Regions from separate parts of the Homo sapiens genome. Here region 1 is linked to region 2. The links come from fine-mapping of genetic effects on gene expression. A gene starts in region 2. The other region holds a variant in brackets. All regions are shown on one strand. Distances are between the middles of the regions.

What was found. PIP is the estimated chance that this variant, and not a neighbour inherited with it, causes the effect. A credible set is the group of variants that fine-mapping cannot tell apart.
Region 1: its variant is the best candidate, but not a certain one, in a credible set for the expression of ISCU in Th1 cells (Schmiedel 2018, PIP 0.73).

The regions. Positions count from the first base shown.
Region 1 is chr12:108,280,962-108,297,082 of GRCh38, forward strand. CMKLR1 (chemerin chemokine-like receptor 1) reads right to left here. Exons shown (of 4, transcript NM_001142343.2): 3 at 12,628-12,703; 4 at 7,085-11,998. The coding sequence starts at 12,630. The coding sequence ends at 10,880. It also overlaps the pseudogene LOC196469. Among named protein-coding and RNA genes, the nearest start is that of CMKLR1, 50 kb to the right of the region's middle. The variant A/G (reference allele first, on the strand shown) is at 8,038.
Region 2 is chr12:108,558,629-108,567,209 of GRCh38, forward strand. It overlaps ISCU (iron-sulfur cluster assembly enzyme), which reads left to right and starts at 3,968. Exons shown (of 5, transcript NM_213595.4): 1 at 3,968-4,108; 2 at 5,651-5,764; 3 at 6,693-6,803; 4 at 8,562-8,581. The coding sequence starts at 3,995. It overlaps SART3 (spliceosome associated factor 3, U4/U6 recycling protein), which reads right to left and starts at 2,545. Exons shown (of 19, transcript NM_014706.4): 1 at 2,215-2,545. The coding sequence starts at 2,526. RefSeq lists enhancers at 2,624-2,683, 2,694-2,793, 3,648-3,707, 3,778-3,857, 4,388-4,457 and 1 more and silencers at 4,068-4,187, 5,148-5,197.

The sequences.
Region 1 (16,121 bases), 270 kb before region 2:
TTGTCAGGAGCTCATTGCTTTGCTAGTGTCCACTGCTCAGCCAGAGATAGTGGTGAATGGCCTGTTTGCATTTCTTGAAAGATTTCCATTCTGCTGCTCAACACAGGTTTTCTGCCTTCTTTAGAGTCTGAGGTCCATCCTATGGTTTTCCTGATTCTGGAGAATGGCCTGCAGCCTCCCACTTAGGGCTTGACTGTGCTCATCTAGTCCATCCCAGGGCTGGAAGGGACATCCCTGGTGGTCCACAAAGGTGACCCAGCAGTGCCTAAACTTCCGGAGGTCATGATGGAGATTTGGGTCCCAGCCCTCTGCAGCATGCACAGCCCCTCATATCCTGGGAGATAATTATAGATGCATGCAGCGAAGATGTGCAGGCTCACACATCTGTTCTCCCAATGAAATGTAGCCACTTGCTGGGCACAGCTGAAGCAGGGACTCCAGGAGATGAACCAGGTGACCCTGTAGCACTGAGCCCGGTCCAGCTTCCAAAAGGAAATCAGGTACAGGAAGCACTGCTCTGCATGGAAATCTTAATAGCAACTGAGATTATTCAAAGCCTGGCTGGGTAGGATGCCCTTGTTGCTGGTCCAGAGGGACCCAGGCATCATTGTTTTGGCACTCCACCTTGCAGCACAGGTAGGTCTGGTGCTGCCCAGAGACTGAAGGATCATTGGTAAAATTGTAAGTGAATGTGTCTGAGAATCTCCCCCAGCATGCTGTGCAGTAATGCATAATTTGTATTCAGTTGCTTCCAAGGATCAAATAGCATTCTTTGGTTGTACACAAATTTGTCCCAACAGTGTTGAAATTCATCATAGTTCATGATCTTCATGCTGGCATGTGGACTGTTTTTTCTGACACCATCTGTGAAGCTCCTCTTGGTAATCTGCTTCCCAGAAGTAGTAGAGGTGGGCAACGAAGATGGTCAGGGTGACCTTGCCATCCTTGGCCAGGAACTCTGCCACGTTCCCTGCATACTCTGAGCAGGGACTCCAGGAGATGTACCAGATGACCAGGTAGTCCTGGTCACGATGCAGCCTCGAGTTGCAGAACCAATCTACGAATCTCATCTCTGGGTGGTGTTCAGGCTTGGAATAGACCTGGCCTCCAAAGATCCTTGCGTCCAAAGGGGGCTTTGAGGGGTCCTTCTTTGTTTTCATTTTGTAGCACAGCCAGGTGGTGTTCCAACCTGAGAGGATGGGTCTGTTTTCAAAGTTGTAGTAGAATGTGCCTGGATACATCCACTCCATCAGGTTTCTGATCTGAGGCTTCATGTGCAGCCTTCTTGGCAGGCTTGCCCTGACCATGATCTTTGTCTGAAATTTGTCCCCTGTCCCTACCTCTAAGATGTTTCTGCTTAGCTTCTCTGACAGTGAGGGCTCGAATTTCAGCTGACCCAGCATTTCTTCGTTTCTGAAGACAAGGTGGTTTTACCATTTAAGCTTCTGATAAGGATGAAATAGGTTGACCAATGTGGAGTTCCCTCTGGCTGCCTGTCACCATCCCTAAAATCCCATCACAAGTCAATCCTTCCCAGTAAGGCACTGGTGCCCAGGCAGTGGGCTAGGTATTGTAAACTGCCTGCCATCCACCAGGCTATCATCTGCCAGCAGGCAAGGCTGAGAGCCTCCATTCCACCTCCCTGTATGGAATTTGCTCCACAACCGCAGTCCCAACATCTGGAGGCAAACTGGAGACTTGTTCACTCATCTTGATGTTGCTCTGAAGGTGGAAAACATCTGCATAGTGGAAACCAGGGAAAAGATACCCTGGATCTGCCTCTTTCTGTGTTAGGCTTCTGGGCCCCACGGGACCCCCAGGTATTTGGCTGTGTGTTGGTGTCTTAGCGTCATCCAGTGTCCAGCACAGACTTTAATGCCCAGTTGACTATGATTTCTAAGTGAAGGGATAAACACAGGAAGTCTGTGGTCACAGTGGTACCAGCCAAACCCTTAACAGAAACCTGGTCCGGAAAAGAACTACAAAACAATATGAGGAGGAGGGAGGCATCTGGTTCCTTTATTTTCTGGCTGTAATAAATCAGACAACAGGGAAAAGAAAAGGCCAAGGGAGGTGGAAGCACTTGATAGAAACCTCCTTTGTCTGTGATTACTCTTTTTTTTTTTTTTCTGAGACAGGGTCTCACTCTGCTGCCCAGGCTGGAGTGCACTAGTGTGATCTTGGCTCACTACGACCTACGCCTCCCAAGTTCAAGCGACTCTTGTGTCTCAGCCTCCCGAGTAGCTGGGATTACAGGCGTGTGCCACCATGCTCAGCTAAATTTTTTTGTATTTTTAATAGAGACGGAGTTTCTCCATGTTGACAAGGCTGCCCTCAAACTCCTGGCCTCAAGCGATCTGCCCGTCTCAGCCTCCCGAAGTATGGGGATTGCAGGCCTGAGCCACCGCGCCCAGCCTGTGATTACTCTTAATGGCACAAGTAAAGAACTGTGTCTCCTCCACTTCTAAACTAAGTGACCTGCGACCTCAGTTTCCATGTTGGTGAAATGAGGAAAAATCCCACCCTCCCCAGGTTTCATTAAGATAGGAAAAAAATGTGAAAATACTTTGGAAACGGTGTATTATAAAAGTGATTGTCATGAAACTCGATGATGATGATGGCAAAAATAATGTCAGCTTATGATAATGTCTTCATTCATTCAACCAGAAGTTATGAGCAGCTTTTCTGGGCTAAGCACTGCTAGGGATACAATAAGGTGGCCAAAGTCCCTGCCATCTTGCTGGATCCAAGTAGGGGCCAGACTTAAGGCCACTAAATACACACATAATAATATGATTTCAGATGGCAGTAACTAGTATAAAGAAAACACTAATACAAAATAGGGATCTGATAGGCAGCGAGTAGGGATGGAGGCTACCTTAGCATGGCCTGTCTGAGGAGATGGCATTTGGACTGAGACCAGAAGGAGGCGGACGAATCAGTCATGCAAAGGGAAGAGGCAAGTGGGCCCAGAAACAGCAGGAATAGCAAGTGCAAGGGCCTGAGGTGGGACCAATCTTGGCTGTATTGTTGCTGTTGATCTGTTTGTTTCATTTTGCTTGAGAGGCAGAAAGGATCACCTAGCTGGAAAGCAGCATGAGATGAACTTAGAGAAGGAGGCAGTAGCCGATCACATAGGGGTTTTGATGCCATAGTAAGGGCTCTGGATTACTGTATTCTGTGATAAAAGCTCACTCTGGCTGCTTCCTACAGTGTGGGTTGAGGGAGCAAAGACAGAAGTGGGGAGGCCAGCAAGAAAGCCGATGCATATTCAGATGAAAGAGCCTGGCACCTGCTAAACGCTAAAGTGCAGCAATCTCACTGAATCCTCACAGCTGCAAACCTTTATCATGCCCTTTGTCATACAGAGGAGAAAACTGAGGCTTCGGAGGCATTGAATAGCTTGCCCAAGGTCACAGAGCCTAACTCTAACCCTGCCCTTAGCTGACGTAAATAGCAGAGCTTGGATTCGAGCCCTCGCAGTCTGATTCCTGAGCCTACCTGACCCGGTGTCATAAACATCAAAGTCCCTTTGAGTCAGGTGGTGAGGCTGGGGAGGCCCCCAGGAGGGCTTAGTCCTTCCTGAGACTCTACCTCTTTGGATGGATGCTGCAGGAGCCACTGCCCTCTAAAATGCTCTCTTGAATCAAGGACAAACCGTCAGACCTGGTCCTGTCCTGCCACTACCTGTCCTGGGTACCAGTGGAGGTGGGAACTCATTTCTGCAGACAACATGAATTATTTTATTTTTACAAAGACTTTTGCTGAGGCATAACTTACTATAGTGAAGTGCGTTCGTCTTCAATGTACAGATAATTGGGTTTTTACAGATGAACCCCCATTCCCCACCCCTTACCCCGTGTAACCACTATCTAGGTCAAGATGGGGAGCATCCCTCACTCATATTCAGGACAATCTTTAAGAGTAACATTTATGCCCCCAAACAAAGCATGTCTGCCCTACAGCAGTTTTTGCCAAGATCTCCCGCCTCCCCTTCAGCCAGGATTCTGCTGGAAACTCCTCAGGGGAGCCCAGACCCTGGGCAGAAATTCTTTACAGCAGATTAGCACCAAAGTGCTTGTCAATAAACTAAGAAGTGAAGCAGGGTGGCTTGGTGAATGCTCAGGTCTCTGGGGTGATGGTGTTTTAAGAGTGACTCAGGTGAGCATTTTCACACACTTCTCATCTCCCAGCAGTCAGTGAGGCAGGTGGTCTCCATCTTATTTGCAAAGAGGTCTCAGTTTCACCATCTGTGAAATGGGGGAACAGGAAGGGACAAACTTGAGGAAGTAGTCCTTTCCAAACGCAAAAACCCTAAGATTCTCAGGGTTGTGAGAAAGTGACAAGCCCATTCAAATGCAATTTCCTCCTCTCAAGGAAAAAGCAATTCCTCAGACTCCCCGACTCCCACATCTTCAAAATTTGACATGGGAAAGAGAATATGTTCTTGTCCTCTTCTCTCCAGGGAAGGGTCTCTACAGAGGACATTTTGCATTTGCACATTTCTGGGGAAAACAGCAGGAGCTTTCAAGATAAACATACTGGGGTTTGAATCCCAGCTCTGTCACTTACCAGCTGTGTGGCATCGGGCAAAGTCACTTCACCTTTCTGAACCTCAATCTCTTCACTTGTGTATGGAGATAGCAATACCCCTACTGTGAAATCCTTGTTGCAAGGACTCAATGAGACAATGAAACTGAAGAGCTTGCCCAAAACTTAGACAAGGCTGAATTAGTATTTGCTATTATTACTGCTGTTGCTGTTTCTGCATCTTTGAGCACAAGGTAAGTGTTTTATAGACCTGTGCTTCTTCCTCCCTCACCAACTCTCATCTTGCCCCCACCTGTCTATTGACTAGATACCTAGAGCAGTAGCTGCCTGACTTGTCTGGGGGTATCCCCATATCCCAGGGGGAGAGACTTCTGGAAGATTCCCCAGGACAGAACTCAGGTGACCCCCAAGGTCAAACCCCAAGTCCAAGTGCTTGGCATCTCATCTGTATAAAGTCCCCACAGCACAACCTGCAATTGCAGCATTAACATGCCTCTGTTCCTCTTAGGTTAATATATGTATTATTTATAGGGCTTTATTATGTGTTCAGAGGGCTCCCCTGAGAAATATAATTGTGCATTGGGTGGTACATTTGAATAATATTTACAATTAATTTCAGACAATAAAGCAATGCACCGAGGCCTCTGTGTAGCAGAAATGGGCCCTGGGTTGGTTTCCCACTAACCACTCCCCTGAGAAAGCTTGGGTAGCTTTTAAATATCTTTCCAATAGTCCATTTCTCTCCAGCATCGCTTCTGTTTCCCCAGTCCAGATTCCACCATGGCTCATCTGAGGCTGCAGTAGCCTCCGGGCTTCCCACTCTGCCCCTCTCCAACCTGTCCTCCCCAGAGCAGCTAGGGGCATTGTTCCAGCATGCAGATCTGAGCATGGCACTCCCCTGCACATGGCTGCCGCATCTCAGGGTGAAGGTCTCCCCCACTGCCTGGCCCTTCCACTCCACCCCCACCTGGTCTCACTCATCCTACACCCTCCTTGCAGCCAGCCCCCCACCCCCACCACTTCCCGTCACTGTGAGCATTGCTCCCTCTTGCATCAATGCCACTGCCCCTGCTGTCCCCTCCACCTGGAGCACCCTCCTCCTGCACCTCCTTACCACATCCGTGCCCACCCATCTTCCACATGTCAGCTCAAGTGTCCCCTCCCCAAGGAAGTTTCCTTAGTCTTTGGACAGGATCGGATCCCTCTATAATGTGTGTGCAGGCCTGGCACCATGGCTCACGCCTGTAATCCCAGCACTATGGACGTCTGAGGCAGGAGGATCACTTGAGCCCAGGAATTCAAGACCAGCCTGGTCAACATGGAGAAACCCTGTCTCTACAAAAAATAAAATAAAATAAAAAATACAAAAATTAGCTGGGTGTGATGGCATGTGCTTGAGGTTCCAGCTACTCCGGAGGCTGAGATGGGAGGATCACCTGAGCCCAGGGAGGTCAAGGCTAAAGTGATCGTGCCATAGCATTCCAGCCTGGGCAACAGAGAAAACATTTCCTGGGGTTGTTTCCCATTGGGGGACGTGTATAATTTTGATTATTGGCTGTCTCTCTCATAAGTCAATGAATGAGCTCAGGAGGACAGAGGCTGTGTACGTCTTGATCATCTCTCTGTATATAGTGCCTACCACAGAATTAGCAAAAGAGTAGCTGTTAAATACATTTTAATGGAATGGATGAATGGGTGGATAGATAGATGGTTATGTAAGTGAATGGGTGAGTGGATGGATGGCTAGGCGAATGTTGAGATGAATGGCTGGGTGAGTGGATGTCGGAGTCAGTGGGTAAGTGGGTGGATGAGTGGATGTTGGGGTGGATGGGTGAGCTCATCTTGGGATAATGGGTGGGTGGATGGGTGAATGGATCTTGCGGTGAATGAGTGGGTGAATGGGTGGGTGGATGTGTGGGTGGATATTAAAGTGAATGGATGGTGGATGTGTGAGTGGATATTGGGGTGAATAGATGGTTGGATAGGTGGGTGGATCTTGGGGTGAATGAGTGGGTGAATGGGTGGGTGGATGGGTGGGTGAATCTTGGGGTGAATGGGTGGATGGGTAGATCTTGGAGTGAATGGGTGGGTGGATAGGTGGGTGGATGTTAGGGTGAATGGGTTGGTGAAAAGGTGAATGGATGAATGTGTCACAGGAGCATCTGTCCTTGGGCCACCTGATGCAGTGCCAAAGAGTATAGACCTGACCATGAGGAGGCCTGGCTTTATGTCCCTTATCTGCTAGGGTTTACTATATTATCTTGGGTGAGTAACTACCTCTTTCACATCCTCAGTTGCTAGAAAAGCAAAATAAGTGAAAAGAATTTTTTTCAAAATGCAAATTTCTTGGAGCTCGAAGGTTTGAGAATGGCAGGTTGGGGACTTCAGGGCTTCTCCTGCTGCCCACAACATAGCTCTGTGACTTTGCACTGGCCGCCTCACCTCTCTGAGCCTCAGCTGCTGTTCTGTGAAGTAAGTGAGGAAGGCAAAAGGGAGGTGATGGCAGGAACCCCCAGAACTGAGCCACACACTCTTGCTTCAGTCTCTTTATTCGAGAGAAACTTTGTCCTCAAAGGGAAGAAGTAAGAAGACCCCCTGCTGAATTATTTCACAGTAGAAATAGTAGATTCCTCTCTGGTCCTAGATACCACCCCCAGCAGCAATTTTCCAAACCCAGGATTTGGTAACCTTGGGCCTAGGGCATCCCAGCCCCAACAAGAGCATAACATGTTAGGGAGGAACGAGAGAGGGAGGCAGGGCAGGAGTTGAGGAATCACCGACCACTTTCATCCAAACCAGACACCACCTCGTTTTGCAGAGTCCTCAGGGGAAGCTCTCAAAACCTCAGTTCCCTCATCTGTGAAATGGGAGACATCTGGGCAAGATGAGTTTGAAGGTCCCTTATGGTTTTCACGATTGGATTCTATCTTCTCCCACCCATCCAGGCTCCCAACCCCACCAGAGCTGACTCTGGGGTCGAATTTGAGCCAATCCCCTCCCTTTGTCAGTGCCCAGTTTCCTCACCCCTTCTGAACCTTGCTGCCAGAATCTCTGTGCCTCTTCTCTGGAGAAGGACCCAGGAACCTGCAGGGCTCTGTGCGCTCTGGGAATTATCTAAGGCTGGCAAAGGCATCCCGGTGCTTGAGGCCCTTCGTGTTCTTGCTCTTCCCTTCTCCCTGTCCTTGCTGGCTCAAGGGTCAGCTGGAGATGGTTCTGAAATCAAATTCCTCCCACTCTTTGGACTTCCATTCCTCTCCCCTTCTCTCTTCTTTCTTTCTTCCTTGTCTTTTCCTTCTTCTTCTCCCCACCCTCTCCTTCCAAGGGCTGAAGAAGTTGGGCATTCAGGCAGCTGACCTGATTCAAAGCCCAGCTCCATACCTCACTAGCTGTGCAACTCTGAACTAGTGAAGTCTGTTCTTGAAACAGAAACTCACTTTCTGCACCCCCCCCCCACCTTGCTATGATGGTCCCCTTCTGCCAGGGCCA[A/G]TTTGAGGTTTCAGTGTTTGTGCCTGAACCATCGTAGGTGCTTCATGAATGCCAGATCCCTTTCCTTCATCATCATGCTCTGGGACCTTTCTGTCCCCTCTCCTGTCCCTCCCCTATCCTCAAACACCATCTTCTTTTCTTTTCCCTCTACCTCTTGTCCTCACGATCCCTCAGCTCCCCCACCCCACCCAGGAGGCAGGGCTAAGTAAGGCCCCATCACTGAGTCCTGGGCCCAGAGAGAAGGCTCTGGGCACTAAGTATGTTGGTTGCCTGTGCAGCAGTGCAGGTGAGCACACTTTGCACACTGCAGGGACGATATATGCATGACCCATGGAGATGTTCACATGAAGCTGTGGGGACAAGACTGTATGGGATGTTAAGGCTGCATTTAAGTACTTGACAGGAACCTAAGTCAGAACAGGAAGACCCACAGAGCAGCCAGAAAGAGGGAGGCCAGACTCTAAGGAGGAAAACAGCCGGTTTGAATTGTGCTCCTGTTTATCAGCTTTTCCAATGACAACATGAATTCCTGGCTCCCCCATCCTGGCCTGGACTGCCAGAAGCCCAGGAAAAGCAGCATCCTACAAGCCAGGAGGGCCAAGGCGCTGACGACTGCTGCTGTGACCCGGGACAGGTCCCATCCCATCTCGTGCCTCAGTAAATGTGGGAAGAGGGGAGATGGGGGCCACTGAGCAATATTTAAAGCTCCCTTTTTGCTCTCAAACCGTCTATATTCAAACTCTTTAAAGCATTCAGAGGCTCCAGCTTGGGATCAATTCAGAGCTGCCTTGTCATAAGCATTAAGGCACAATAAGGGAAGGAACAGTTTGTCTCTTAATGAAGTGTGATTCCAAACAGCCCATGGCCTCGGGAACTCGCCCAGCGCGGGGTAGACATTGCATCTGTTCATTGCATCTTGTTGGAGAATCAGCTTAACAATGAAGGGACTTGGAAGAGAACAGAATGTGGACACTTAGGAGCCAAAGGGCCTCAGGCCCACAAGGGACTGCCTCCTGCCAGCTTTCCCTCCCCATTGCCTTGATCTCTGGAGACATAGGAGGTGGGAGCCACGGTAGGAGGCTGTTAATGGCTGTTGAGGGAGCTGGAAGCCAAGTGCATTTTCTCTGCCATGTTGCATCATTTTTGAAAACTATTTGCAAAGTTTCTTAAAGGCCATTAAGATGTTCATCCTCATTTGCAGAAAAATCAATATTTATGGCAAAAATCTCCAAACTTTTTAAGTCCTTCCCAACTCTGCAGCCTCATTTGAGCCAGGCAAACTGAAGTTCAAATCCAAGCTCCGGCAGAGACTAGCTGGGTACCTTTGGGCAAGTTACTTAACCTCTCTAAGCCTCAGATTCCTCCTATGTAAAAGGGAAGTTATAACCATACCTAACTCAGGGTTGCTGTAATGATTAAATGAGAAAACATATGTAAAGTGCATAATATAAAAAGTGCTAAATAAATGTAGGCTATCAATATACTAGAATAATCTCCACAGATAAATTCCAAATAGAAGAACAGAGTTTCTGGAGCCAGACGGAGCCAGGTTCAGATCTTAACTCTGCCACTGATTAGCTGTGTGATGCTGGGCAAGTTACTTTCCCCATCTGGGCCTCAGCTATGTCATTTGTAAATGGGGCTATGACACTCTGTGGCCACAGGGACGTGTCAGTATTAGATGAGAAAAGCCATGCCAGGCACCTGTATCCAGGAGGTATTTGGTGTCTGCAGCTCAGAAACACAGTTCAAGGAGTCCAGCTCCAGACTCTGTCTCAAGTGACTGAGTCCTCGGACATACTCTTCTTCCCAGGGGACTCTCCGGAGTTGCTTCCCAAAGCTGCATTTTGGACCTGTCTCCAAAGGCGTTGAGGAAATTAACCAGAATGAGAAGCCCCACCACCAGTGTTTTATTCTAAGCACCTCCAGCCAGAGCTGAGTGGATTAGGAAAGGCAGAAAAAAATCCCTGTGATGGGGTGAGGGCTGCTGGTGAAGATGCCTGCCACAACCCCACCCCCAGGTAAGAGGGGCAAGGTGAGATCAGGGGCTGGCACCACCCTGACGCCCCAAATAGCTCCAGCCTAAAGCACCATCAGCCTGCGATGTTCTAGGGTGAGCTGCTCCATGCCTGCATCCTTTAAAGGTTCTTTTCTCCTTTCTCATTTCTTTGCCAAATCTCAAGTCCTCGTTGCATCCCTCACTTGTCTTGCCCTTGCAAAGAGCCCACAGGACCTCTCAGGACCAGTTCTCTGTCTTCCTAGCTGATCCGAAAGCCAAATTCATGGCCTATGGAGTTCATGGGCTGATATGTCACCTTCCTCTCCCAGATCACCTATGCATTTCCACATACTTTAACACAGAGCAGTGACTTGAAGGTAGGGTTTTCTGGCCAGCTACTGATAATATATATACAAGGGCCAAGTGTGATCTGCATCACACTGGGTTTGCTCTGACCCCCTCACTGCTCACACCAGGAATGGACCTTGGAGAGTGTCATTTCTGGGGCACACACAATAGGCAGCTTAATCCCACCGCCCTATGCCAATCCCAGTTCATGGCAATGCTTTTGAGAATTCTTCCTTTTTTGCTTTGAGTCAGTCAAGGCTGGCCTCCCAAGAAGCATAAATTGCTAGTCCAAGGCTGTATGGAACACAGCATGTTCTGTCCACTAGAAGAAAGGGGTTCCAGGCCCTAGATTCCCAGCATAAAACACTGTTCATCCCATGCAAAATGCAGTGAAAATTGGTGGATGCTAAAGAGGTTCTTGCCTTGATCTTCAGAAGACATATCCTTGGGTGTCCCTGGGTTGAGAGAGTCCATTGAGGGGTTCCACAGTGAGGATCAAAGCATGCCGGTCTCCCTCTCATTCATAGAAGTCCTCTCATTCATTGATGACATCTTGGTAAAGCTTCTATGGCTGGGGTAGGAAGAGTGGCCTGTATCTTCACTTAGAGCATTGACCAGGCGAGAGAAGAGGGCCACCTTGAACTTCTTGAAGTCCTGACCCATGAAAACATACAGAATGGGGTTCATGCAGCTGTTGGCAATGGCAAGGGCAGTGGCCAGGGGCAAACCCAGGCTGAAGACAGAGCCAGGCATGGCAGTGTGGTGGAGCTCTAGGAGGTTGAGTGTGTGGTAGGGGCACCAGCAGAGGAAGAAGGTAATGATGATGGTCACAATAATCTTGAAGGGCTTCTTGGTCTTGGCCAGGCGGTTGCGCTGCAGTTTGCACACGATGGTGAGGTAGCAAGCTGTGATGATGAGGACTGGGACCAGGAAGCCACAGAGGAAGCGGGTGACAGTCACCACCATGTGCCGGCTATACCCCACAGGGTCCATTTGGGAGTGAGTGGGCCACGAGGAAGACCCAGGTGTGGACAGGCTGAAGTTGTTGAAGCAGGATATTTTCCCATGCAGGTTGGCTGTGTCCCGGAAGACGAGAGATGGGGAACTCAAGAAGAAAGCCAGGACCCAGATGACCATGCAGGCCATGTAAGCCAGGCGAACGCTGCGGTGGTTCTGGGACCAGACAGGGAGGAGCACAGAGATGCAGCGGTCAGAGCTGATGATGGTCAGCAGGAAGACGCTGGTGAACATGTTGTGGATGAGAAGGAAGTTGCTGATCTTGCACATGGCTGTCCCGAAAACCCAGTGGTAGTCCATGGCGGCATAGGTGATATGGATTGGGAGGAAGACGTTGAACAGGAAATCTGCCACTGCCAGGTTGAGGAACCAGACCATGTTCACTGTCTTCTTCATCTTGAAGGTGGCAATGATGATCACCAGACCATTGCCCAGAATCCCGAGGAAGCAGACGATGCTGTAGACCACCACCAGGAAGATCCTGGTCACCCTGGCTTCCAAGGGGGATAAGTCCTCCAAAACCACAATGGAGTCTAAATAATCAGGGTATTCATCACCGTAACTGATGGAAGTGTTGTAATCTTCATCCTCCATTCTCTGCAAGAGAAGACAGGGACCATTAGAGGAACCCTAGAGTTGGCTTTAAGAGGTTGACCAATACCAGCAAGACCAACAATGTTCCCCCTGACTCTGAGCAAGTCCAGTTTTGTGATTTAACCATTTCCTTCTTTGCTATTTTATTTATTGAACAAATGCCTCTCTGGTACCTCCTACATGCCAGGCACTATTGCATTCTACACTCTCTTAATCTTCACAGTAACTCAATGAGGTAGGTAGGTTATGAGCCTCAACTTACAAATGAGGAAACTGAGTCACAGAGAGCTTATGTCATTTGCCTGAAGTCCTACAGCTAGGAAAAGGCAGACCTGTGATTTGAATCCAAGCTTCAGAGTCTATCCTTTTGACAACCATGTTTTCTGTCTGCTTGGGGCCCTGTCTTCCTCTAGAGCCTAGTGGGGGAGACAATTGTTCATCAAAAAGTCCCTCAAATAATGGGAACATTGCAATAATGCTAAGTGCAATGAAGAAGAGGTACATGGTGCTGTGAACTTGATTCCAACATGCTTCTAAAACCAAGTGGACAGCCTTGTTGTGATCCCCCTGTGCACCCAATCTGTCAGTGGTCACTGGTGCCCTTTGGAGTTCAGACCACAAGACTTCCTCACCATTCACCGTTATGTTGTCTGCAGCTCTCCAATGTGAGTCCTCAGCCAATCAGTCCCTGTACACAGCTAGAAACACCTGTAGGGAAAAAAAAAAAAAAAAAAGCAGCAATTGGATCCAGGTCTAAGAACCAGAGGGTTGAGTGGACCCAGCCAGAAATAAGATCTGTTGTTCTTATTCCCATTTTACAGAGAAGGAAGCAGAAGTTCAGAAAGGCTGTTATTCAGCCAAGGTTATGCAGCCAGGAAGGGATGGAGCCCCTTGAACCTAGGTCAACTGACTCTTCCCAGGTCAAGTGCTGGACTCTTCATTCTAACCACTCCCCTCTCCCAGCACATCCCTAGCTGACAGCTGGAGTCGGGCATGAGTAAAGGAAGACACAGAGGAGGTACATGGATGGCTCAATCCACTACCAGGTCGGGACTCAACTCCACTACCAGGGCAGGACCCACAAAATACTGTTTTAGGAAGTGTGAGCACAGAGAAAACAGGAGAAGACCCACACAGAGTACCTGCTATGTGCCAAGAACTTTTATTCTTTCTTGTTATTTAGTCTTCCTTGGGACTTTTCCAGGCAGGTGTTATTCCTTTTGTGTTAAGAAATAGAGAGACTGAGGCTCAGAGAAAGAAGCATCATTCTTGCTGGATATTCTCTGGGCCCTATGGGAACCATGAATGAGATGCAGGCTCTGAAGCCACAGCAGTCTGGTGTGAAGACAGACACAAATATATCCACTGAGCCTCCGCTGTGCAGACAACTTAAGTGGCACTTTAAACAAGCCCCATAACAATCTTGCTGAGTATTTTTCCAGTCTATGGAAGAACAAACATATTCTGAGGAGTTTGCAAGTTTGCAAGATCTTGGAGGCAGTGATCACATGCAGGGTTCATACCTAACCCCGGACACTTATGAGCTGTGTGGCTTTGGGCAAGTGATTTCTCTTCCCTGAATCTCAGTTTTCTTACCAATAAATGGGATTTCTCACCTCACAGAGTGTATATAAGAACTAGAAGCATCAGAAATGTGGAGCATTTAGCTTGGTATTGGCACATAGTAAGCCCTCAATAAATACTAGTGATTGCATTATTGCCTAGAGGTGCACAGCTGATAAGCAGGATTTAAAACCAAGGCTCTGATACCCCAGAGCCCATGCACTTTTTTCTGCGGCTCATGATCTCCCCATCTTGTCAAATGGGCTCCAAACCAGATATTTCAGCTTCACAAGGCTGCTAATCAATGCTTTATTATAAATAACTCCAACCTTCCTGCACATAAATTCATTACTGATCCTTCCCAGCTTAAGGTTATATTTTATTACATAAAAGTCATCTTTTGCTTTTATTAAATAAAAGCCACTTGGAAAATTCCATTGAGGGCTTTGCACTCAGAGGGCTCACAATCAAAGCTTGGGTGTTATCCCACTCTATGCTGGGACAATATTTCAGAAGTGCCCACCAAGGGGTCTCCAAGGGTTTTCTATGGCACTGGAATGCAGAGAGAAGATGGGGACACTGGAGCTGGCCTCCCATGACTGGAGGTAACCTGACAGGTGTGCATGACAGTAGTGGGGAATGCACATTGAGCTCTTGTGTATGCCAGGGACCATGTTAAGCCCTCAGTCCAGATGGTCTCACTTTAACCCCATAAGGGGCTACAGCAGGGCTCAGAGAGATCAGGACCCATGCCCAAGCATGCAGGCAGGGGCTGGAAGAGCTGGGATTTGAACCACATCTGCAAAGCCTGAGCTCTTAACTGTCACTCCACACTGCCCCTGAGACCATGATCTGCTCAGATTGATGACCATCACCAACCTTCCTTTTGGAAGAAATGACCAAGTTGACATTCCCTGTGCCAAACGGTGCAGGCACCAGGGATGAGGACATGGCCTTACTAGGGTCCCTTCCCAAAAGGAGCTCACAGGTATGAGACAAAGAGACAGTGTTGAGGCTGGGGCAAGACTAGAATGCCCCAAGAAGCCCAGAGGAGGGGCTGTTACCCAGCCTGGGAGTCTGAAGCTTCCTGGGGCCAATGGCATCTGAGTTGAGTTTTAAGGACAAGTATGAGTTAAGAAGGTGGAAGGCAGAGAAAGGAGGAAGGGCACGCCGGGCATCTCCCCATCTCTGACCTTCCCCTCCCTCATTGACAGTGGGCTGGGTGTGTGAGTCCCGAGAGGAGGTCGAGGAGGATCTGGGACTCAGGACTGAGTGCTTCGCACAGCATCTGCAGAGATGCAGCCTGAAGCAGATGACATCATGTCGGGCTCTCTGGCTGGGCTGGGAGCAGCTTGGGGTCAGAGGCCATGTTTTTTCATCTTAGAGCTGGGGCCAGGCTGGGCTGGCACAGAATGATGCTGACATCCTCTGGGCATGTCCCTCCTTCCACCCCTAACTCCTCATCCTTCCAGGAATTGAGTGGATTCGTGTCCCCTGTTGGTGCATCGCCCCCACCCCAAGACGCCTCTCTCTCTGGAAGCGTAAGGGAGGCACAAGTCACAGGTTTGCTTTGAGCCTCTGCTCTGTCCTAACACACATCCCTCCTGTCCTGAGCACATTTCTGCTACCAAACCAAGCGGAAGAGCAGACTCTTGGGCCCAGCCAGACTGCCTGCATCCACATCCTGGATCTGCAGGAACTCCCCTGTGACCTTGGGCAAGTCAGTTACCTTCTTTGCAACTCAGTTGTCTTATCTGTAAAATGGGCTTGATAATAATAGCTCCTGCCTCATAAGAAGATGGTTGTGAGGATTAAGTGCTTGGAACAGGTCCCCTTATGGGGTAAGCACTATATTGTTGTTATTGGCATTGTTATTATTTCTCAGGCTTCCACTCTTAACTCCCTTCTAAAATGGTCTTTGCCTGGGAAGGTGGGATGAGGCTAGGAAGCCAGAGGACCAGTGAGTTCCTGGCCACTTGTCTCTCCAGCTGTGGGATCAAGGGCAGGTCAGAAAGGGACACAGAGGCCAGGCACGGTGGCTCATGCCTGTAATCCCAGCACTTCAGGTGGCTGAGGTGGGAGGATTACTTGAGGCCAGGAGTTTGAGACCAGCCTGGGCAACATGGTGAAACCCGGTCTCTACTAAAAATACAAAAATTAGCCAGGCATGGCAACACGTGCCTGTAATCCCAGCTACTCAGGAGGCTGAGGCAGGGGAATTGCTTGAACCCAGGAGCGGAGGTTGCAGTGAGCCAAGATCAGGCCATTGCACTCCAGCCTGGACCACAGGGTGAGACTGTCTTCAAAAAAAAAAAAAGAGGGACACAGGTAAGGATTTTGCTTCTCTAAGCTCCAATGTCCTCTCCTCTCAAGTGGGGGTAAGAACACCTTCCTCGTGTTGTTGGGAGAATCATGTGAAATGACAATGAAGCCTTTGCCAATTGTGAATTATAAAGAGCTGTAAAATTCTAGTTACCCAAATTCCTTAAATCCTCCACAACCAGGAAGCTTATGAAAAAAATATGCGTCACTATATATACCGCTGACCCTTGAACAATACAGG
Region 2 (8,581 bases):
CAGTCTGAAGAAATGACATCAACAAGGGCAGGGACACAGTCAATCTGGTACCCAGTGTCACGCTGTGTTTGCTGAATGAGTAAGACTAAATTAGCTTCAGCACACTTATTTATAAAAAGTAGAGGGCAGGCGCGGTGGCTCACGCCTGTAATCCCAGCACTTTGGGAGGCCGAGGCGGGCGGATCACGAGGTCAGGAGATCGAGACCATCCTGGCTAAAACGGTGAAACCCCATCTCTACTAAAAATAGTAAAAATTAGCCGGACTTGGTGGCGGGCGCCTGTAGTCCCAGCTACTCGGGGGGCTGAGGCAGGAGAATGGCATGAACCCGGGAGGCGGAGCTTGCAGTGAGCCGAGATCGTGCCACTGCACTCCAGCCTGGGCCACAGAGCAAGACTCCGTCTCAAAAAAGAAAAAAAAAAAAAAAAAAAAAAGTAGAAATGCTAACCACCTGCCAACCCCAACAGGTTCCTCTGACAATCAGATGTAATGGGTGGGACAAGCTATACCAATGGATGACATCACTATCTCATAACAAAAATATCAGTGCCAGAGAGAGTATTATAAGGAAACTGACACTCAGTAAGGTTTAATGAGTAAACTAGATTAGCAACTTCACATTCACTGAGTGATTTCACATCCAGTGTGGCATCTAGTCCACATTTTAAGTGTAAATCCCACTATGAATAACTTAAAGGAAATCATTTCATCATTTGTTCTGAACCTCTGTTTCTTCATCTGTAAAAAGAGAATGCGGGCCGGGCGTAGCGGCTCACACCTGTAATCTCAGCACTACGGGAGGCCAAGGTGGGTGGATCACCTGAGGTCAGGAATTCAAGAGCAGCCTGACCAACATGGTGAAACCCCGTCTCTACTAAAAATACAGAAATCAGCCGGGCGCAATGGTGCGTGCCTGGATCCCAGCTACTGGGGAGGCTGAGGCAGGAGAATCGCTTGAACCAGGGCGGCAGAGGTTGCAGTGACACGAGATGGTGCCATTGCACTCCAGTCTGGGTGACAGGGCGAGACTCTGTCTCAAAAAAAAAAAAAAAAAAAAAAAGAGAGAATGTGCTCCATCTCTTCTGTTTGCCCCCTCCAAAAAACACCCTACCCTCTCCTCCCTGCCCTGTGTCCCCGAGTATAGACCTCATGCACAGGTTTCCTGGCTCTCCAGCTTCCAGATGGGTCTGCCCAGCAGGAGGCACCAGCAGAAGTTTGGTGGGAGGAAGAAAGAGAGGTCAGGGTATTTCTTCCCCCACCTCAATCCTTGACAGGAAACTGGGGCTGCTTCCCTTGAACAAAGTTATCAGCAGGTCTCAGGTGCCCTCTCCACACAATTCAGATCACACCCTTCACCCCTTCCGGCCCAAAGATGGACACCAGGTTCTGGAGTTACCAGCTATGGGATACTAAACCTTCACTCCCGATTTCCCTACCCACACCTTTATTGAGTTTCTCTCAGATCATCCTAATTTAAATGTGCCACCTATTTCCTGCTGAGATCCTGGATTATACAGTAGATATCACCACCTCATAAGGTTACAAGTGAGAGACCATGTTATGACTAGATGCTAGGCACTGAGCTATAGTTACTGTTACAACAATTATATTATGCAGAAATTGTTGCTCCCAATCTGCAGATAAGGAAGTCGAGAGGGTGAGAGAAATTAAGAAATTCTTACAAGCACATACAAGAGTTGAACAGCTAGAACTGAGGCCTTAACCTCCAGAACCAGAAACCTTTCCATTTCTATTATCACCATCGCGGTCAATATTTTTCTTACCACAAGTTTCATCATCGCCGTCATTCCTACATAACAAAATAACACTCTCTTGCGAATGAGTTTATTTCTACTGTTGGACGTGTGGTTAAGAGTGGGAGTTCTGGAATGGGATCAAAGTACAAGGCCTGACTTGCAGGAAGTGTTATCTTGAGCAAGAAACTTTCCTCCACGAGCCTCAGTTTCCTCCAGTAAAATGGGGATAGATAACAGGGCTTCCTTCACAGGGTCGTGGCGAGGATTCAATGAGATAACGTTTGCAAGGCAATGGGCAGGCAGTAAGCACTCAAATCCGACAGGAGCTACTGTCACGAAAAGCGGGTTTGCAGCCTTGGCGGCTTTATCGCCGCCGAGGACTAGGGAGGCGGGCCAGGACATGGGGACCCGAGGACCTGAAAGACTGGAAGATGCCCGCTGCCCACCCCCGGGCCCACCTGCTCCTCCAGTCTCTCAATCTCCAGCTGGTTTTTCTCCTCCTCTTCGTCATATTCCCACTCGTACTCCCCGGGGGAGCTCTCCGCGGAGGAAGCCATGGCGTACTCATCCCCATCGCTCTCGCTCACGCCTTCCTCCTGCTGATCCCACGCTGGCCCCATGGTCTTGTATGTCGCAGCGGCCACAGCCCGCGATAACACCTTCCTCCTTGTCCTAGCCGCCTTAACCTCATCCTCCTCTCCGTCAGCCTTGGGCCCAGCCTTGGACTCAGCCTCGGGTTCTGAAGCCGAGGTTTCGGCCGCAGTCGCCATCTTGCGCTTCTAATGACTCTCGGGTCTTCCCGCGGCCGCCGAAGACCCGCTGAGGCAGAAGCTGCCCGCGGCGCGCGCCTTATCAAAAACCCGTTTTCTTGCCATTGAAAGAGAAACTGGGAACTTAGATAACAGGAAAATCTCCACATACACTAAATTCACATTATTTTATACCCTGTAAAAGCTCCCACCAGATATAAAAACTCATTATAATGGCATGCGTTCCGTCACAACTTCGGACAGAAGTTGGGTCTTTGGGCAGGAAGTGGAAGCCATAGAGGAAGTCATGGAGCGAGAGTGATGTCTGTAGTGAAGAATTTGGCGCCATCTTGAGAAGGTCAAAGTGATTCTTCGATTAAATGCCTTACTTATCGCCTAGTGTGACCTGGCGCTTGGGTTTACTCTCCCCAGCAACTGCGCCTCAAACGCAAAGAAAACTGCAGGTCCTCGGGGAAGGATCGATTTCACCATTCAAGAGAAAAATCCATTTCCCAGATTCCTCCCCTTTATGTAAACGTCTGGTACCTAGTAGACGTTAAATACACGTGAGTTTTCCGGTTTTATAAGATCACATACTGCAAACCAACAGTAAATTACATTAATACGCATTTCTTTAGAAATTCTTAATTGCTAGGCACTGACATATAAATTGAGTTTGCTGTTGTTTTAGAGAGAAAAATAGACATATTCATTTTTTTTCAATCAGGACATGGTATTCGTTTCCTTCTTAAGCTTCCCATTTTTGAGGTAGGAAAGTATTGGTGTGTGTCTCTATCTCTACCTTGCTCCCTCATTAGCAGGCTTAATGGGCAGGAATTATGTCTGTTTTGCTTTCCGTTGGATCCCCGGGTCTAGTAGAGCGCCTTGACACATAGTAGGTACTCGACACAGATGCTGGCTTCATGATGAAGCAATTGTCCTCGAATTAATACAAAAGGGAAGATTCAGACTCAGCGAGCCGGTACCATTCGTCTAGGGACACACAGCCAGGAAGGAACCGAACCAGGATTCTAACCCAGGATTACCCAAGTTCGAATTCTAATTGAACATAAGTCCTTAGCGACCTTGGACGGACTTACTAAACTGCCCTGAATCTCGGCTTCCTTAGCTGCAAAATAGGGTTAGGAAAAGTGGACTCGGTGCTCCTCTGCGCCGCATTCCCGCAGCGGGATTTGTGAAAGCGAACTTGAGCCCCACACTGCAGAAGCCCTGAGGTCCTGTCTCAACCAGAATCCAGCACCCAGGACAAGCCCTCCAGCGACTTCAGACCTTCCCGCTCCCGACCCCGCCCGCCCCCGAGAGGCGTGGTCAAGGCGGGGCCAGAAGGCGGACGCGTGCACGGAGCGGTAAAGCGCAGGCGCAAAGCTTCGGTGACGTCAGAGAGGCGCGCTCCCAGCTCGGAGCCGACTCGCAGACGCGCCCCGCCCCTCGGCGTCGCTCTGGACTGGCGCAGGCGCAAGCCGGCAAGATGGCGGCGGCTGGGGCTTTCCGTCTGAGGCGGGCGGCATCGGCTCTGCTGCTGCGGAGCCCCCGCCTGCCCGCCCGGGAGCTGTCGGCCCCGGCCCGACTCTATCACAAGAAGGTAGGGACAAAAGAGGGACGCGCGGAATGCCGACTCAGCGGAGGCCTGGGCTGGAGGGGCGGCCGCGGGGTTCTGCGCAGCTAGGACTGGGAGCTGTCCCCTCCCACGTCTTTGCCCTGACTCGCTTTCCCTTGCTGCGCAGTGAGGCTCACTGCAACTGATAAACAACAGTTACCGCTCATCGGGCGGCGACTTCCAGGGGGCCCCGCCGCTGGCCGCGACTTCGTGCGTCCCAATTTTAAATTCGCCAACAGCCCAGGAGGCAGGGTCCTGTTGGGACTTGTCTTTCTGAGTCCAGGGACAGACACACCCCCGGAGCGGGCTCCGGCTTCAGCCACTCCGCTGCCCTGGCCAGATGACCTTGGGCTAGTCACTGCGCCTCTCTGAACCTGTTTCCCCAGGTGTAAATGGGGGGCTCTCAGCTGTCCCTTACAAAGGATACTGTGCGTGGAGTCCTGGCATGGTTCCTGGCACATAGGCCCCAGCACGAGGAGACCGTTTCTGTTACTGCTTTAGGAGTGCATAGGGGAGTCAGGCTTGTAACCAACATGCGTAATGTTTTTGTTTTGTTTGGGGGGTTTTTTGGCGGGGAAGGAGGGATAGATTCATAGTCTGCAGCCCCTTGCTGTCTGGTGGCACAAAGTCCCCCAGACGTGAGACTCCCACTCGAGAAACAACTAAAGAATGCCATAAATCAACGTGGCACAAAAGGCCCCTACATTAGATACTATCCTGAGGTCCCTTTTACTTGGAGTCAAAATCCTTAGTCAGATGGGGGGAAAAGGGGACTGGAAGATCGGCGTGCTTACTACTAACCAGTAACCAAACCTCAAGGTTATTAAGGCCTTCTGTGTGCCAGTTCGAATGGATGTTTATTGTGATCTGGCTTCTGCCCTTTCTCCAAGGGCTTCTTCACTCCTCCCCCTCCCGGGGGTGTGTTTTGTTGAGGGTACACCCTGAAGAAACTTGGACTAGCAGCCTTTCAGCAGCCAGGGTGCGCTGCTGCACCAGGGTGATGACAGGCTGTGAAATACGGTAATGGCACTGTTTTTATTTTAAAAGACACATAAACGTACACATTCCATAGCATTGTTCCCTGTGTAACAGTCACCTTAAGGCTTCTAAGAAAGCTTTCCCTCCCTGGGCCATGGTTATTTTTAGAATTTTTAAATAGTAATCATCCTTTGAGGATGGATTTTATTTGAAAATAACAAAACTGCTGTTTGAGCCCAAGTCTGGTGATGTAGGTGGGTGAAAGTCAAGTATTTTTGTAAAAATCCTATGGAACTAAGACATGATTTCACTGATTTTTTTTTCTTCTAGGTATCTCAAATCTGTGAAGTATTGTAGAGGAGACACAAAAGGAATTGGGGGTCACAAATGGTTCTCATTGACATGAGTGTAGACCTTTCTACTCAGGTGAAATTTGGTATTTAGTGATTGCCTGCCAGGTTCAAGATGCTGACCGAGGAGCTTACCATCAAACCAGAGACCAGTACCAATAGAGAGTGAACATGATTTATCTTAACCCTCTCATTTTAGGTTGTTGATCATTATGAAAATCCTAGAAACGTGGGGTCCCTTGACAAGACATCTAAAAATGTTGGAACTGGACTGGTGGGGGCTCCAGCATGTGGTGACGTAATGAAATTACAGGTATGGCTAGTCTTTTTTAATAGTGATAACAATAATCCCTTTAAGTTTACAAAGCACTTGCGCATTTCACTTGGTCTCCATCTTTATTCCTGTGAGATCTCCAAGCATTTCACTTGGTCTCCATTCCTGTGAGATGGGATGAGTCCATGTTAGATATGACTGGAGCAGGGCCTCAATCGTAGCTCTCCTGCTAGGCTAGTGTACTATGCCAACTTTTTCCAAAATAGAAAAGTAATCTCATTTTTGTACTCACTGTATCAGTTTAAATTCTGACTTCAGCCAACTAAAGAGTTTTGTGAATTTTACTGATCAAAGGAAAATCCCAGTGAGCTAGCAGTCCCCAATGAAACAAGAAACACAGTAAATTAAACCTGTCCCCAGATTGGGGGAAACATGAAAATAGTGTCTAGTGCTTTGGGTAAACTGTAGTTGTAGCACCAATCTGCTGCTTCATGGTGAGTGGGCAGCTTGCCAGAGGTCTTCATACCTATCTTGGAATACAGAAACAAAACAGGAGGAAACCACTAAGTGTAATCTGCTGCCCAAGAAAAAAGTATTAACCAGAGACCTTTATTGTGGACTCTGTCAGTGTTTAAAGAGGCCAGATTGCCCCAGCAGCTGTGAGCAGACTTCCACAAATAGAAGTTCATAGCCAAAATGCAGGCCAGAGTCACAAAACAAAAGAATATTGGAGTGGAGGGACATATTTTTCAGCTGATCTTTGTCAGTTGGGCCTGGATAGTTGTCCCTGCATTTCACTTTTCATCACTGAGCTCTTTGAAACAAGGCAAAGTCAGTAATTAATGCCATCACTTAGTGTGGAAAGCAAGCCCAAAGCCCTTGGGGAAGGCCCTGGTGAACCTTCGTGAGTGCCAGGTTCCAGAGGGTGGTCCCAGGACTCACCACTTAACTCTTGTCTCTTTTCTAGATTCAAGTGGATGAAAAGGGGAAGATTGTGGATGCTAGGTTTAAAACATTTGGCTGTGGTTCCGCAATTGCCTCCAGCTCATTAGCCACTGAATGGGTGAAAGGAAAGACGGTAAGGTGGCTCACAAATCTAATGGGTCAAAAACAAGTAACCATGACTTTTTTTTAATATTCTAAATTTTTAAAATTTCTCCTATGCAGATGTTGATTATATTATCATTTCTTCAAATTGGGAATTATGGATCATTCTACTAGGTGTTGTTTGGGTTTTTTTCTTGTTGATCATTTTTATTTTTTTGTTTGTTTGGGTGTTAATTACATATAAAAAAGATCCTCACCTGTCCCTCTAACAAAATAGAATTTAAAAGAAATCTTTGGCTTTCTCTAAGGTTACCAGTGCTCTTATAATTTCTCAAGTCAGAGAGTTGTTATAAGGTAGTTATTTTCTTGTTTATTTCCTCTCATGTTTCAGGAAGGGTTCTAGGTGGCTTTCAAGAATTGGTGAAATAAACTAGCCTGTGTTAAAAGAGGGATTAAATAATCAAAAAGACAGCAAGGGTGGGGGCAAAGTGAACAACGAAATCAGAACAGTGATCCAGGTGGCTGATCGCAAGCCCTCTAAAGGCAGAGATAATAAAGAGCTAGAACTTCTTTTTCATCCCTTTGTCTCCCAAGTGTCTTTCCCTGGTAGCTGCAGAGGTCAAAGGTCCCAAACACAGTGAAGAGCTGGACTTTCTAAAATCCAGTTGCTGTCAAAACCTCTCAGAAAAGCCAACCAGCAAGGCACTCATCTTTGCTGCCCCAAGGGACCAGGTTCAGGGAGCTGAGTCACAGAGGAGCATGCTTGGAAGCTGGCCAGCTCCACAGCAGAGCAGTTTGCCAGGCCACGTGCCACCTGCTTCCTGTGGCTCACGGCCTTCTGGCTGGCAAGCCCCTGTGGGCCAGGAAGCTCAGACCTAACCTGCTGTGGCAGGAGGTAGCTCTGAAGTGATTTGTCAGGAACTGTCCTCAGGTGAAGGGAGAAATGAGACAAGGCACTTTTGCTCCCAGAACCTGGCCCTTAGGGGACTGTGAATTGTGATCAGAAAATGGGAGAGAGGACATTTCTTTAACCTTGAGATCTCCCATCTGAGTTTCAGGAGCAGAACCTGAATCAACCAAGAAGGGTTAGCAGAATTGGGAAACTGAATGATAGACATAGTCAAAGAGTCTGGCTGTTGGGAAATCTGGTTTTCTGTAAGGCAGTGGGGCACTGTTCTACATGGGCAAGGATCTGCCTGCCTCACATTATCCCCCAGGGCTGTCAACCAGACCCCAGGCATCCTCTTTAGTTGATCTGGAGGAGATGCTCCTATAGGCAAAGGGGACACCAAAGAGAGCATTCGGCCTGACTCGGCTGTGCCACTGCCACTGTGCTACTTACCTGAAATCTTCCCAACCTCTCTGATGCCATTCGGCACTTCTAGTCAAAAGGATTTAGGCTAACATTTGGTATGAGGACATCGGAGAAGCTGATATTCACAAAACCAGCATAGGAAATCACTACCTTTTAAGGAAGAGATTCCTGTTACAGGCCACAAGCAGATCCCTAAGAGACTTCTCACAGGTTCCACTCCTGACTTAGAGAAGTGTCTGGGCTGTCTTTGCTTACCCAAGCCAGGCAGTGCAGCTGTGTATACTTCATGCTTGAGAATCCCAGCTGCAGCTTTGATAAAGTGGGAGTCCTGAGAAGACCCTTAGCCGTTTGAGTTATTAAACAGAAATCATCCCCACCAACCCTGAGAGCCTCTTTGGCCTCCCTTTTTTATTGGCTGGCCCTCACAAGATAAAGTGTTGCTAAAACTGCCCATCTTTCCATTATGCCTCTCAGGTGGAGGAAGCCTTGACTAT